Regions from separate parts of the Homo sapiens genome. Here region 2 is linked to region 1. Evidence: fine-mapped expression QTL. Tissue or cell type: macrophages. Region 1 holds a variant in brackets; the other region holds the start of a gene. All regions are shown on one strand. Distances are from middle to middle.

The links. PIP is the estimated chance that this variant, and not a neighbour inherited with it, causes the effect.
Region 2: it holds the start of NSMCE1-DT, and the variant in region 1 is fine-mapped to the expression of NSMCE1-DT in macrophages (Nedelec 2016, PIP 0.95).

Annotation. Positions count from the first base shown.
Region 1 is chr16:27,243,467-27,251,479 of GRCh38, forward strand. All of the region lies in intron 2 of NSMCE1 (NSE1 component of SMC5/6 complex), which reads right to left. Among named protein-coding and RNA genes, the nearest start is that of NSMCE1-DT, 21 kb to the right of the region's middle. The variant G/T (reference allele first, on the strand shown) is at 3,917.
Region 2 is chr16:27,263,696-27,270,452 of GRCh38, forward strand. NSMCE1-DT (NSMCE1 divergent transcript) reads left to right here and starts at 4,510. Exons shown (of 5, transcript NR_037184.1): 1 at 4,510-4,549. It overlaps NSMCE1 (NSE1 component of SMC5/6 complex), which reads right to left and starts at 5,077. Exons shown (of 8, transcript NM_145080.4): 1 at 5,011-5,077. RefSeq lists a silencer at 4,971-5,050.

The DNA.
Region 1 (8,013 bases):
ATAAAAGCAGAACTCCAACCCAAAATCTACATCAACCTGCCCAGAAAGCCAGCCCACCACCTCTAAGCCAGACCTGCAGGAAGCCAGGCCAGTCCCCTAGCAACCAGTCCAGAAGCCAAAACTAACCCACAATCATGGCCCAAAAGGACCAAGGCAGGATCAGTAACTGATACTACCCTAATTGATTTTATTTTATATTTTAGAGATGGGGTCTCGCTCTGTCATCTAGGCTGGAGAGCAGTGGTGCAATCATAGCTCACTATAGCCTTGAACTCCTGGGCTCAAGTGATCCCCCCACCTCAGTCTCCCCAGTAGCTGGGACTACAAGCACGAGCCACTACGCTCAGCTAACTTTGTTTCTTCTGCAGACCCTGAGGTCTCGCAATGTTGCCCAGGCTGGTCTCAAACTCCTAGCCTCAAGTGTTCCTCCCGCCTCAGCCTCCCAAGTAGCTGGGACTACAGGCATGTACCACCATGCTTGCCAGCTTCCCTAATTTTTATCCCTGTTTCTAAGAGACAACAAACCAGAGAAAGCCACATATGTACTTCTAACCAATCACATAGGACGCCCCACTTCTGGTTAGCTGTCTCCACCTTGCCCTGGCCAGCAGCCTCCACTCAGGCACACCTGAAGCCTCCCCACTCCTCTGCCTTCCTGGAGTCTCTGCTAAACCCAAGTGGAGGCTGCCTCTCTTGCTGGAGCAAGCTCTAAATAAGCAGCTGCTGCCTGTTCTGCTGCCTGGTCTCCGTTTATGTTCACACTTTATCCGTGGAGGACTCAATTTGGTGCCCATTCTGGGCTAAGCAGGGGCTAAGAAGTGGCTGGTATGAAGGCGGCTGACTGCAGTCGCTCTGACAGGCGCACGCCCTTCCCTTTCCCCACTCACTACAGTCTGAAGCAGACAACAGCCTCCAACATTCTCCCGGTGTCCCCTCTAGCCTTCTCCATCTGTCTGTCCTCCACATGCAGCTGAGTGGAGCCAGGTCCCAGCACTCAGCCTGGAAGATGTCTGGGGCTCCATCCCCTGACCTATGTTGCCACCTGCCTTTCTGTCCCCCACTCCCCCACACCAAGCTCCTCCCCATCTCAGCCCCTTCACTCATGCTGCCTTCCCTTTGGAAAGCGTCTCCCGCATATCTCTGCAGGGCTGCCCCTCATCACCCGAGCATCGCCACATATGGCAGCTCCACAGAAAGGTTTGAACAGAGGCCCTGGCCAAAGCCACACCCCAGGCCCGCTCTACCGAGGGACTCAATGCTTCCTTCCAGCACTTAGCACCCCAAACTACCACACTGTCTGCCTCCGAGTTACGGTCTTTCTCTTTCTAAGCAGAATGCCAGCTCCCTGAAGGCTGGGATCTGCTCATCCTATTCACCACAGCAGCCCAACATTCAGCTGACACTCAAGACGTATCCGTCCACGAACCGAGGAAGATGTGTGGTACAAGTGGTGACCATGCTTTGTGAATTTTCTAGGAAAACCCCAAGAGAATTCAGCCCTGTGGTCTATAAAATAATTCCTATCACACTATCATACCAGCACCATGGGTCTTCTGATAGTCACCCCCCACCACTCACCCCCAGCAATTGGGATTAGATGGCAAGTTAAGGGGCAGAAAAGGAAGGAAGAGGCAGTGGTGAGCATGAAGTGAACGTGTGCCCACAAGCACTCTGTGCCAGGCGCTGAACATACATTCCCTTGCTTAATCCTCAAGACTCTTCCATGAAATGAATGTGATGTCCCTTATAACACAGAAAGCTGAGACTCAGAAAAGTAAAAGAACTTTCCCCAGACCCTGGAAGAAACAGGACTTGAATTCATGCCTTTGAAAAATGGCTTCCCTGTTCCAGCCAGCGGGGTCTGTGGTAATCCCACTGAATCCATTCCCAGTACTTCCACGCATCAGCACATAACCTCTCTCATGTCTGGGATCCAGTTCAAAATGCATTCCCAAACACATGATGTGTGTGCTTAGGGGAGCGTGAAGCGCACAGAAATCCTGGCTCAGCAACTCCATGCTGGCCTGAAAGGGCTGCGGTGGAGCAGTCCAGCCTGGACTCCCAGGCTGCAGACATGAAGAACGGGCAGGACTTGGACACATCTAGGCCAGCAAGAGCCAGAGACACAAAAGCAACATCAATTTCCTTGTGGTTACAGAGCTTCTTGAACCCAAAGATTCCTGTCTAAGCACTTAATAACTGCCGGCTGTCAATTCTGTATGTTGAGAAATTCATCGAGTCACACGTTAGATGTTACTTTTCATACTCATTTTTTGCCACTTTTCAGTTATGATCCCAGACTTTATCTCCCTTGATTAACTGAAAGGCAGACCGGCTCTGACAGTGGTATGCTGATTAACTGTTCATCATTGCCAAAGGGGAGATCTATAAATGAAATCACTAAAAACAGAAGGAAAATGTACTTGGAGCCAGCTTCTAATTATGACTGAGTCTTCCTTGGAAAGAGAAGGTGCTTACAAATAGGACTACAGACAGGATGGAATACTAAACCAAAATGTCAACATCGCTGATTCACCATCAACGCACGTAGCCTGATGATGTACAGGAGTCCAGCGTGAGACGACGAAGCAGATACAGGCATGTCAATCAGCACGCTGGAAACAAACCCGGGATGAAGGCAGATAAGAGAGTTGACAAAAACAGAAAATCTTTATCAAACCCCAACGTGACCATGATACTTGACTCACTCATCTAGTTTTGACACATGTATTTCAGCGACCTGGTTTTTGCCCAAACATCAAATTATTTACTCTGCTCACTGAAGTATTTCTAAACCTAAATTTTTAAATCTAAAACTTCAGACATTTTTACCTAACTTGTCCTTAAAACAATAGATAATTTAAAACCTCATAAAAATTAACATTAAACATGATAATACAGTGTAATTAGTTCTAAAATGTTAGTGCTGGAGAGTATAGAACTGTACCTCACAGCAGTCTGGCAACCATAAAATAAGAATGAATCCAGGGAAGTATTTTAAAACTAATAGGTAAAAATGGGATGAAGAGTGGGATTATTTTTTGGAACAGGGTCTTGCTCTGTCACCCAGCTGGAGTGCACTGGCATGATCTTGGCTCACTGCCACCTCTGCCTCCCGGGTTCAAGGGATCCTCCCACCTCAGCCTCTGAGTACCTGTGATTACAGGCTCATGCCACCAGGCCCGACTAATTTTTTTATTTTATGTAGATACAGTGTTTCGCCATGTTGCCCAGGTTTGTCTCAAACTCCTGAGCTTGAGTGATCCACCTGCTGCAGCCTCCCAAACTGCTGGGATTACAGGCATCAGCTACTGCACCGGGCCAAGAATGAGATATTTACCTTGTCTCTAAGTACCTCCCTGCAATATACTTATTAATCACATAGAAAAAGAGTAATTGTACACTGGAGAAACCTGGCTGACCCCATCAACACCGTAGCCGACCTGGTAGGATGCAGAGAGAACACAACACCGCTTCCATATTATATCTGCAAAGTTAAAACTCCTAGATCTAATTAGGAGGAAGCTCCAGACAAACCTAAGCTGAGGAACATTCTACAAATAGCACATGTGGCTACTGAGCACTTAAAATGGGGCCAGTCTAAACTAAGTGTAAAATACATATTGGATTGCAAAGACATATTTCCATCACCCCCAATATGGTTTGGCTGTGTCCACCCAAATCTCATCTTGAATTGTAGTTCCCATAATCCAAACATGTCATGGGAGGGGCCTGGTGGGAGGGAATTGAATCATGGGGGCAGTTACCCTCATGCTATTCTTGTGACAGTGAGTGAGTTCTCAAGAGATCTGACAGTTTTATAAGGGTCTTTTCCCCTTTTGCTCAGCACTTCTCCTTCCTGCCTGCCACCATGTGAAGAAGGATGTGTTTGCTTCCCCTTCCACCATGACTGTAA[G/T]TTTCCTGAGGCCTCCCCAGCCATGCTGAACGGTGAGTCAATTAAACTTCTTCCCTTTATAAATTACCCAGTTTTGGGTATGTCTTTATTAGCAGCGCGAGAACGGACTAATACACTCACCAAGTTTCCTTGTGCCTCTTTGTAATCCCTCTCACCTACCCATCCTATCCCTCCTCTATGCCATCCCCATGCAACCACTGAACCATCCTGTCATTACAGTCAGGTACGCATTGTCTAGAATTTCACATAAATGCCTTCATATGGCCGGGCACAGTGGCTCACACCTGTAATCCCAGCACTTTGGGAGGCCGAGGTGGGCAGATCACGAGGTGAGGGGATCAATATCATCCTGGCTAACACAGTGAAACCCCATCTCTACCAGAAATACAAAAAAATTAGCCGGGCGTGGTGGCACACACCTGTAGTCCCAGCTACTCAGGAGGCTGAGGGAGGAGAATCGCTTGAACCTGGGAGGTGGAGGTTGCAGTGAGCGGAGATTGCGCCATTGCAATCCAGCCTGGGCGACAGAGCAAGACTCTGTCTCAAAAAAAAAAAAACAAAAAACAAAACAAAACAAAATTGCTTTATACTCTTTCACCTCACTTCTTCCACTCAGCAAAATCATTCTGATTCATTCATATTCTAGCATGTAGGAAGAGCTCACTTACTTTTATTGCTAAGTAGTATGGATTTATCACAGTCTGTTCATCTGTTCAACTGCAAATGGACAACTAGGTGTTCACATTTGGGGCCATTACAAATAAAGATACTCTATCTCTGCACAAGCCTTTGTGCGGGCATATAGCTTCATATCTCTTGAATAAATGCCTAAGAGAGGAATGGCTGAATCATAGGAAATTGCCACACTGTTTTCCTAAATGGCTGTCCCATTTTACATTCCCAACAGTAGTATATTAGAGTTCCAGTTCCTCCATGTTCTCACCAATACTTGCCTTGCAGAGTCTTCTTCATTTTAGCCATTTTAATACACATGCAGTGGTAGCTCACTGCGGTTTTAGTTTGCTTTTTTTTTTTTTTTTTTTTTTTGAGACAGAGTGTTGCTCTCTCCCCAGGCTGGAGTGCAGTGGCGTGATCTCAGCTCACTGCAACCTCCGCCTCCCGGGTTCAAGCAATTCTCCTGCCTCAGCCTCCCAAGTAGCTGGGACTACAGGCACCCGCCACCAAGCCTGGCTAATTTTTGTATTTTTAGTAGACACAGGGTTTCACCCTGTTGGTCAGGATGATCTCAATCTCCTGACCTCGTGATCCACCCACCTCGGCCTCCCAAACTGCTGGGATTACAGGTGTGAGCCACCATGCCTGGCCTGCATTTTTTAAATGTCTAATGATGTTGAGCATCTTTTCATGTGCTCATCTGCCATCTGTACAACCGATTTGCAGTGTTCAAATATTTTGCACACTTCTTACTGGGTTGTATGTTTTTCCTTTTCCTTTTCTTTTTTTGAGACAGGATCTCCCTCTGTCACCCAAGCTGAAGTGCAGTGGCACAATCTCAGCTCACTCCAACCTCTGCCTCCCAGGCTCAAGCAACCCTCCCACATCAGCCTCCCAAGTAGCTGAAACTACAGGTGCATGCCACCATGCCTGACTAATTTTTGTATTTTTTTGTAGAGACGGAGTTTTGTCATGTTGCCCAGGCTGGCCTCAAACTCCTGAGCTCAAGCAATCCACCGGCTTCAGCCTCCCAGAGTGCTGGGATTACAGGTGTGAGCCACCACGCCCAGCCGGGTTGAATGTTTTCTTATTTTTGAGCTTTGAGAATTCTCTATATATTCTGAATACAAGTCATTCATTAAATACATTATTTGCAAATATTTTCTCTTAGTATTTTGCTTGTCTTTTCAGTCTCTAAAGAGTATTTTTTAATGTAAATTTTTAATTGTGAAGTTCAATTTATCGATTCATTCTCTTATGGAGCATGCTTTTGGAGCCAAGAAATCTTGGACTAATCATAGGTCACAGAGGTTTTCTCCTATGTTTTCTTCTGGAAGTTTTATAGTTTCAGGTTTTACATTTAGGTCTATGACTCATTTTGAGATAATTTTTGTATTTGGTGCAAAGTATGGCTTGCAGTTCATTTTTTGATTATGGATATCCAATTATTCCAGCACTCATTTTGGAAAAGACTATTTCCACTAAATTACCTTTGCACTTCTGTCAAAAATCAGCTGTCCACCTATGTGTGGGTCTGTTATCTAGCTCTCTTATTTTTTTCCCTTCATCTGTTTGTCCATCATGACATGACTACCACACTGTCTTGATAGGACAGCCATACAGTAAGTCTTGAAATCAGGCAGGGTTCCTCAAGTTTGTCTTTTTCAAAATAGTTTTGGCTCTTCTAGGTCCTTTACATTTCCATGTGAATTTCAGAATCAGCTTGTTAATTTTTATAAAAAGCCTTGCTGGGATCTAACTGGGATTTCTTTGAATCTATAGATCAATTTGGGGAGAATTGATACCTTAACAATACTGAATTTCCCAGCCCATGAACATGCTATGTCTTTCCACTTATTTAAATCTCCTTTGACTTCTCTCAACAATGTTTTGTAGTTTTCAGTGTACGGGTCTAACACATTTTTGCCAGATCTATTCCTAAGCATTTCTTATTTTTAATGTTATTATAAATGGTGCTATTTTTACATTACCATTTCTGATTATCCATTGCCAGCATATAGAGAAACAATTGGTATTTGGATATTGATTTTGTATCCTACAACTTTACTAAACTCACTTATTAGTTCCAGAAGATTTTTTGTAGATTCCATCAGATTTTCTACACAGATGATCATGTTGTCTGTGAACTGACAGTTTTACTGTGTCGTCCTTTCTAATCCAGCTACCTTTTGTTTCTTTTTCTCGCCTCAGTACACTAGCTAGAACAAAAGTGGTGAGAACAGACATTCTTGTCTTTCTCCTGAGATTAGGGAAAAGTATTCAGTCTTTCACCATTAAGAGTGATGTTAGCTGTAGGTTTTACAGAGATCCCCTTTATCAGGTTAAGGAAGTTCCCTTCTTTTCTCACTTTGCTGAGGGTATTGTTTTTGTTTTTGTTTTTTAATCAGGAATAGCTGTTGGATTTTTTTTTTTTTTTAAACTCTGTGTAGAGGGCCAGGCGCGGTGGCTCATGCCTGTAATCCCAGCACTTTGGGAAGCCAAGCCAGGGAGATCACTTGAGGCCAGGAGTTCAAGACCAGCCTGGCCAACACGGTGAAACCCCACCTCTACTAAAAATAACAAAAATTCGTCGGGCGTGGTGGCACGTGCCTGTAATCCCAGCTACTCGGGAGGCGGAGGCAGGAGAACTGCTTAAACCCAGGAGGCGGAGGTTGTAGCGAGCTGAGATGGCACCACTGCACTCCAGCCTGGGAGGCTTTTTTGAGACTCTCTCTCAAAAATAAAATAAAATAATAAAATAAATGAAATTTATTTAATTTTAACTGTTTTTTTTTTTTTTTTGAGATGGAGTTTTGCTCTTGTTGCCCAGGCTGGGGTGCAATGCACGATACCAGCTCACTGCAACCTCTGCCTCCCGGATTCAAGCAATTCTCCTGCCTCGGCCTCCCGAGCAGCTGGGATTACAGGCATGCACCACCGTGCCCAGCTAATTTTGTATTTTTAGTAGAGACGGGGTTTCTCCATGTTGGTCAGGCTAGTCTCGAACTCCCGACCTCAGGTGATCTGCCCACCTCAGCCTCCCAAAGTGCTGGGATTACAGGCGTGAGCTACCGCGCCCAGCCTTAATTTTAATTATTTAAAATATATATATATATATATATATATATATATAAATATATATATATATATAAAACTCTGTAGAGTTCAGACTCCTCACTTGTGTTCTAAGTCTATTTATCCTATTTATCCCCTGCTACTTAGGATCCCTTAGCTTCCTATAAAAAACTTTCTGCTACATCACACCAGGGCAAACATGAGATTTTGTCAAATACTTTTTCTGTACCTATTGAGATAAACACAAGATTTTTCTTTTTTAGCTTAATATGGTGAATTACACTGATTTTCAAATATTAATACTAAATCAACCCTGCAAAATCAGGATAAACCCTACTTGGTTATGT
Region 2 (6,757 bases), 20 kb after region 1:
TTTTTTAAAAAAGCATATGATCATCTTAATGATGCAGAATATACAATTGATAAAATTCAACATGTACCTACACCAAAAACAAATTTGGAATCGAAGAAAACATCTTTTATCTACTAAGTGACGTCTACAAAAAACCTGCAGCAAACATCATACTGAAAAATGAAATGTTGGCAGCAATCACTTTAAAAACCAAATTGACCCAATGCAATTGAATCAATGCTATTACAGTCAGCATCCCAAGAGGCTTTGTGTATGTGTGTGTGTGATTTGACAAGATGATTCTAAAAATTTACATAGAAAACACAAAGGCAAAACAGCAAAGACATTCCTGGGAGAAAATAAAGGCAGAAGGACTTGTCCTACCAGCTATAAAGACTTCTCATATTTGCTGGGCGCGATGGCTCATGCCTGTAATCCCAGCACTTTGGGAGGCTGACGTGGGCAGATTGCTTGAGCCCAAGAGTTCAACACCAGCCTGGGCAATGTGGTGAAACCTTGTCTCTACTAAAAACAAAAATTAAAAAAAAAATCGCTGGGCATGATGGTATGCACCTGTAGTCCCAGGTACTCATGATACTGAGGTGGGAGGACTGCTTCAGCTCGGGATGTCGAGGCTACAGTGAGTCATGATTGCACCACTGCATTCCAGCCAGGATGACAGAGTAAGATCCTGTCTAAAAACAAACCAAAACAAAAAAAGCACTTCTTATAAAGCTAGAGTAACGAGTACAGTGTGGTAATGGTACAGAGATAGACAAATAAGACCAATCAATGGAACAGAACAGAGAACTCAGAAACGGAAAGGTATACATATATGGATACTTGATGGCGGATGAAAGCAAACTTTCCAATAAAAGGTGCCAGGAAAACTTGTTATCCATATGTAAAAAAATGAATAAAATTTGATTCTTACCTCATACTATATACAAACATCAATTCTGAAGGGATAAGGTCATAATAAGGAAAAATACTGTAAGACTTTTAGGCAATATAGAGAATATATTTATCACCTAAGGGTAGGGAAGGATTTCTTTAAGAGATATAAAAAGTACAGGTCATAAAGGAATATACTGATAAACTTGACTTTTGTTAAAATTAAGGGCCTCTATTCACCAAAAATACCAGAAAGGTGGGGGTTAGGGGATACAAACTGGAGGGCATTTAAAACAAACATAAGCTACAAAATACAAAAGATTCATATTCAGACTATATAAGGAATTCCTACAAATCAGCATGGGAAACACAACTGTAAAAGAGAAATGGGCAACAGAAATTTTACAAAAAGAGGATGCATAAATGATGAATAAATACAGAAAAAAGATGCTCAATCTCAATGTTATCAGACAAATGATTATGAAAACCACAGTGAAGGAATGTCTTAGCCACCACCAGACAGGCAAAAATTTTAAAAGAATGGCTGAGGCTGAAACTTTCATCTGCTGCTGGGAGAGTATAAATTCTTTTCCTTTTTTTTTTTTTTTTTTTTTTTTGAGACAGGGTCTCACTCTGTTGCCCAGGCTGGAATGAAGTGACACAGTCATAGCTCACTGCAGCCTTGACCTTGTGGGCTCAATCGATCCTCTGACCTCAGAACCCCCTAGCAGCTATGACTACAGGCACACACCACTATGCCCGGCTAATTTCTGTATTTTTTGTAGAGATGGGGTCTCACCTGTTGCCCCAGCTGGTCTCATACTCCTGGACTCAAGCGATCCACCCACCTCAGCCTCCCAAAGTGCTGGGATTACAGGTGTGAGCCACCACTCCAGGCTGAGTATAAATTATTGTAACCATTTCAGATAACAGTTGATATTACTAGCAAATTTGCATATCCCCCGAAATCTACTATTAGGTATATACCTTACAGAAACTTCCACATTTGCCCTAGGAGATATGTTTTTACAGAAGCACCTTGTAATAACAAAAGTCTGGCAACAGTATAAATGCCTACCAACTGAAGAACTACATTAAAACAATATAATCATCCCATAGAATTCAAATCAGCAATGAAGACAAAGTAGAGCTCCTCACATCAACACGCATACTTCTCAGAAAGATAATGTTAAGTGCAACAAGCAAGTCACACAAAATATATTTTAGGATCCTATTACATAAAATCGAAAACTCAGCAAAAGCATACATTCATTCATTAGAAATACACACATACATGGTAAAAACTACAAAGCAAAACAAGGCAACAAGTAACACAATATTCAGGGCGGTGGTTATCTTTGAGGAGGGAAGAAAGGATTCAGTGGAGGGTCTGGCAATCTGAAAATGTCTATTTCTTAACTTGGTGGCAGGTACATGAGTGTTCATTTTATTTTTGTTCTTCAAACTTACACTTCCACACAATTGTATAGGTATGTTACATACAATGTTTTTAAATGTGATGGGCTGGGCATGGTGATTCACACCTGTAATCTCAATACTTTGGGAGGTCAAGGCGGGAGGACTGCTTGAGGCCAGGAGTTTAAGACCAGCCTGGGCAACATAGCAAGATCCACTCTCAACAACAACAACAACAACAAAATAATGTGAATATGTTAAATAACAGCCAAAATAAATGTAAATGAGAATGAGAACAGGATAGGATTGAATGCTATAATTTGGTGGAAAAGGAGTGGGAAAAGTAGGAGTGGAAGAAAGACAACCATAAGCTTGTTTATGCATATTATGTCCCTTGTCTCTATGAGAAGAGACTGTAGGGAGAATGGTGGGATTAGCATAGACATGTATTACCTACTTAAATAATTTTATTTTATACAAAAATCAGCCAGGCGTGGTGGTGCACGCCTGTAATCCCAGCTACTCAGAAGGCTAAGGCAGGAGAATCGCTTGAACCCAGGAGGTGGAGGTTGCAGTGAGCCAAGATCGCGTCACTGCACTCTAGCCTGGGCGACAGGGCGAGACTCTGTCACAAAAAGAAAAAAAAAATTACTTTTTTTAAAAAAATTAATTAAAACAGTTTATTGGCTTTAAATGTACATCAGTAAATTTTTAAATGCTAAAAAGTTATGATAAAATAATACAGAACCAAAACATCAAAGAAAATAGAGGCTCAGCAGCATGATTTCAATATATTTTCCCGGATAAACAGATTTTTTTTCTAAGTATATGCCTTTTTATTCAAGAACAAAAACTCCCTAAATTCAATGTTTAGAACTGAATTTTTTTTAACTAAGCCCAGAAAACTGGGGCTCATAAAATAAGGCATAATGTGGGCAGCAAAAGAAAAAAGGAGAAAAAAAATGGGAGAAAAATTGGTTTTAATCCCATGTATAATATAGGTTGGCTGGTTTTGTTTTTGTTTTAGCCAATTTAAGGCAGAATTATCTCTCTGCAACCTTGCAGATAAATCCTAGTGTTTTAGCCATAAGTTTCAAGAGTTCATATATACAGATAAACCAATTAAAAAAACCTTTTCGAAGGCTTTTGAAGCATTATATAAATCTTTAAAATTCCTATCACCCACATTTTAAGAAATACATCTATACGTTTAAATTTATTATTAAATTAATTAAATGCATTAATTAAATCAATTTATTTAAATTTAATAATTTTAAAATAGAAATGTTTGTGGAATAAGTAAATCTCAGTCATACCATTCGTGCGGGTGCTAACACAATTCTAGTGCTTCACATGCCCGACCTCATTTAACCCAAACCAGAACAACCTTATGAGCAAAGGGTCACTGACCCCATCTTACAGATGAGGAAACTGAGACTAAGAGGGCACAAGGTGACACACAAGAGTTGGTGGCAGAGATAGACGTGACCATACAACAGCACAGTTCCTGTTTTCAAGGACACTCTCTATCCAGCGAGAGTGAGAAAAGTGAGTGAACAGAACAACTACAATCCAGGTCCCTCATCTGCAACCCTCAAATCTAAAAAGGTATGAATACTAGTGGATGATCGGATGCAGGGGAAAAAAAAAAAAAAGTCTGAATACCAAAACTTGTTTAAGTTGGAAAACTTGACCTGACTTAAGGTGAGGCTATTTATGGTTATTTATCCCAACAGTGTAAATATATGCATTTTTTTTTTTGAGACGGAGTTTCGCTCTTGTTGCCCAAGCTGGAGTGAAGTGGCACGATCTTGATTCACTGCAACCTCCGCCTCCCGGGTTCAAGCGATTCTCCTGCCTCAGCCTTCCGTCTCAGCCTCCCGAGTAGCTGGGATTACAGGCACGCACCACCACGCCCGGCTAATTTTTTGTATTTTTAGTAGAGACAGGGTTTCACCATATTAGCCAGGCTGGTTTCGAACTCCGAACCTCAGGTGATCCGCCCCCCTCAGCTTCCCAAAGTGCTGGAATTATAGCCGTGGGCCACCGCGACCAGGTCAATGTAATATATGCGTATCTTCATAACTTTAGCTGTGGAAAGGGTCGTGTATTTGATTACAAGCCGCTGCTCCAGCCCCCTCTGAGGGTGAAACCTAACATAGAACATAGGGACTTTACCTTTCCAAACTCCGAGAACTCCTCGATTTTAAACGCATCTGGCCTCGGGGCTGTAACATAAGCGGCTGCGGACTTGTACAAAGTAAGAAACTCCGTACACAAAACAGAGGGGAGCACGGAGGGCGGCGGGACAAAGAGGGTGGTCGGCAAAGGCTGTATTTTCCATAGATGTAATCACAGTTTGAATCGAATTTTATATTTTGCTTTTTCACCTGTTACAATGAAAAGTATCTTTACCTGTTAAATCGTAATTACGATTAAAAATATTTTTCACTAAATAGTAAGATTTTTAGATGTCTGCGTGTGTGTTGCGGGAGGACATCCCAGTCCGCTGTTTTCTGCGGCCCCTGTCTGGGCCTCAGTTTCCCCATCAAGAAGGGGGAAACCCCAAGACCCCAGTCCCCGAGTTCCACAGCCCACGGGGACCGACCCCGGGGCCGGACCCCACTGCCTGTCTCGCCCACCCCACCTTCCGTCCTCCCCTCGCCTTCCTTGAAGTCCCTCTTCTTTCCCCTCCAACCCCTAGCTCCCCACGTTACCCACCAGGGAGCCCAAGCGCATCCCAGGCCGCGCTAGCGGATACGGTCGCAAGGTGGACTCTTCTTCCTTTGAGGCGGGGCGAACGCGAACGCGGCGTTCCCATTGGTGGCCTGCGGCTTATTCGCCCGTCCGTTGAGTGACGCACTTCCGGTTCTCCGTTTGCGCCATTGCCCTGGTGGTTCCGCCTCGTGGGTTAGATCCCAAATTACGCCCGCTCTCGATCCTTAATAATGGGAAGGGGCTTCCACTTGTCGCCCTCCGCCTCCTGCACCTCAGTGACTTCCCTGACCAAGGAGGAAGAATTGGCGTGCAGCCTGGGCTTCCCTCAATGGCCACCATTCCGCTGGCACAATGTAGTGCCCTGCCCCGGGCCTCAGTTTCCCCATCTGTGGAACTGAGTGTGGCCTCGACGTCAAAAATGTGGACTCTGGTCCGGTCGCGGTGGCTCACGCCTGTAAGTAATCCCAGCACTTTGGGAGACCAAGGCGGGCCGATCACTTGAGGTCAGGAGTTCGAGACCAGCTTGGCCAACATGGTGAAACCCCCGTCCCTACTAAAAATACAAAAAGTAGCCGGGCGTGGTGGTGTGTGCCTGTAATCCCAGCTACCCGGGAGGCTGAGGCAGGAGAATCACTTGAACCCGAGAGGCAGAGGTTGCAGTGAGCCAGATCGTACCACAGCACTCGAGCCTGGGTGACAGAGCTCAAAAAAAAAGAAAAGAAAAATGTGGACTCTGTGGTCATAGAGCCTGATCTAGAATCCTGGCTCTGCCACTTACTAGTTGGCAGGCGCTTGGGCAAGTCACTGAGCCTCAGTTTCCTCTTCCATTAAATGAGGATATTAGTTCTTGCAAAATAGTGTTGGTGAGATTTACAAGAGATAATAACACCTATATCAGGTGCTTAGCATGGCCATTGAAAAGTGTCACATGGGAGTGCTGATTATATGTTAACTGTTATCTTACCTAGGGATTGTGAGAAAGCAAGTGAAATTACTCGTGGAAGTGAATGGACTGCTTTGAGTCTTCAAGGCGTTAATTTTCCAAACGTTTGAATTCTATCCCTGGTCTGAGAGCTAGGGATGCAGCCTAGCAAGGGAAACAGGTAACTAATATAGAACAGCAGTACCTGCAAATATCTGTCTCTGTGAGGATAGATCAAATCCAGGCTTGGTCACTCACCACCCCTGTGATCTTGGACAACCTCTTAACCTCTCTGGGCTTCAGTTTCATCTGCTAAGTGGGAAAGCAGTGGTGTGTGGTGATTAAAAGCTTCAGCTTTGGAGCTGGATGGTCAACATGGAATCCTGGGCCTTAAACTCAGTGTCTCTGAGACATAGGACAAAGTACAGTCAGCTGTCCATGTTTACAGGTTCCCCATCTACGGATTGAAGCAACTGTGGGTGGTTAATATTTGTGGGGGAAAACAGTAAAAAATAACAGTTCAACAATAAAAATAATACAGATTCCGAAAGCAATACAGCATAGCAATTACTTATATAGCATTTACATTGTATTAAGTATTGTAAGTAATTTAAAGATGATTTTCAATATACTGGAGGATTTGTGTAGGTTAAATGCAAGTATTCTCGCATTTTGTAAGCACCCAATGGTTCTCCTTGCCTGCTTCCTAGACAGAACCAATTTATCAAGACAGGGGAATTGCAATAGAGAAAGTTTAATTCACACAGAGCTGGCTGAACAGGAGACCACAGTTTTATTATTACTCAAATCAGTCTCCCTGGAAATTCA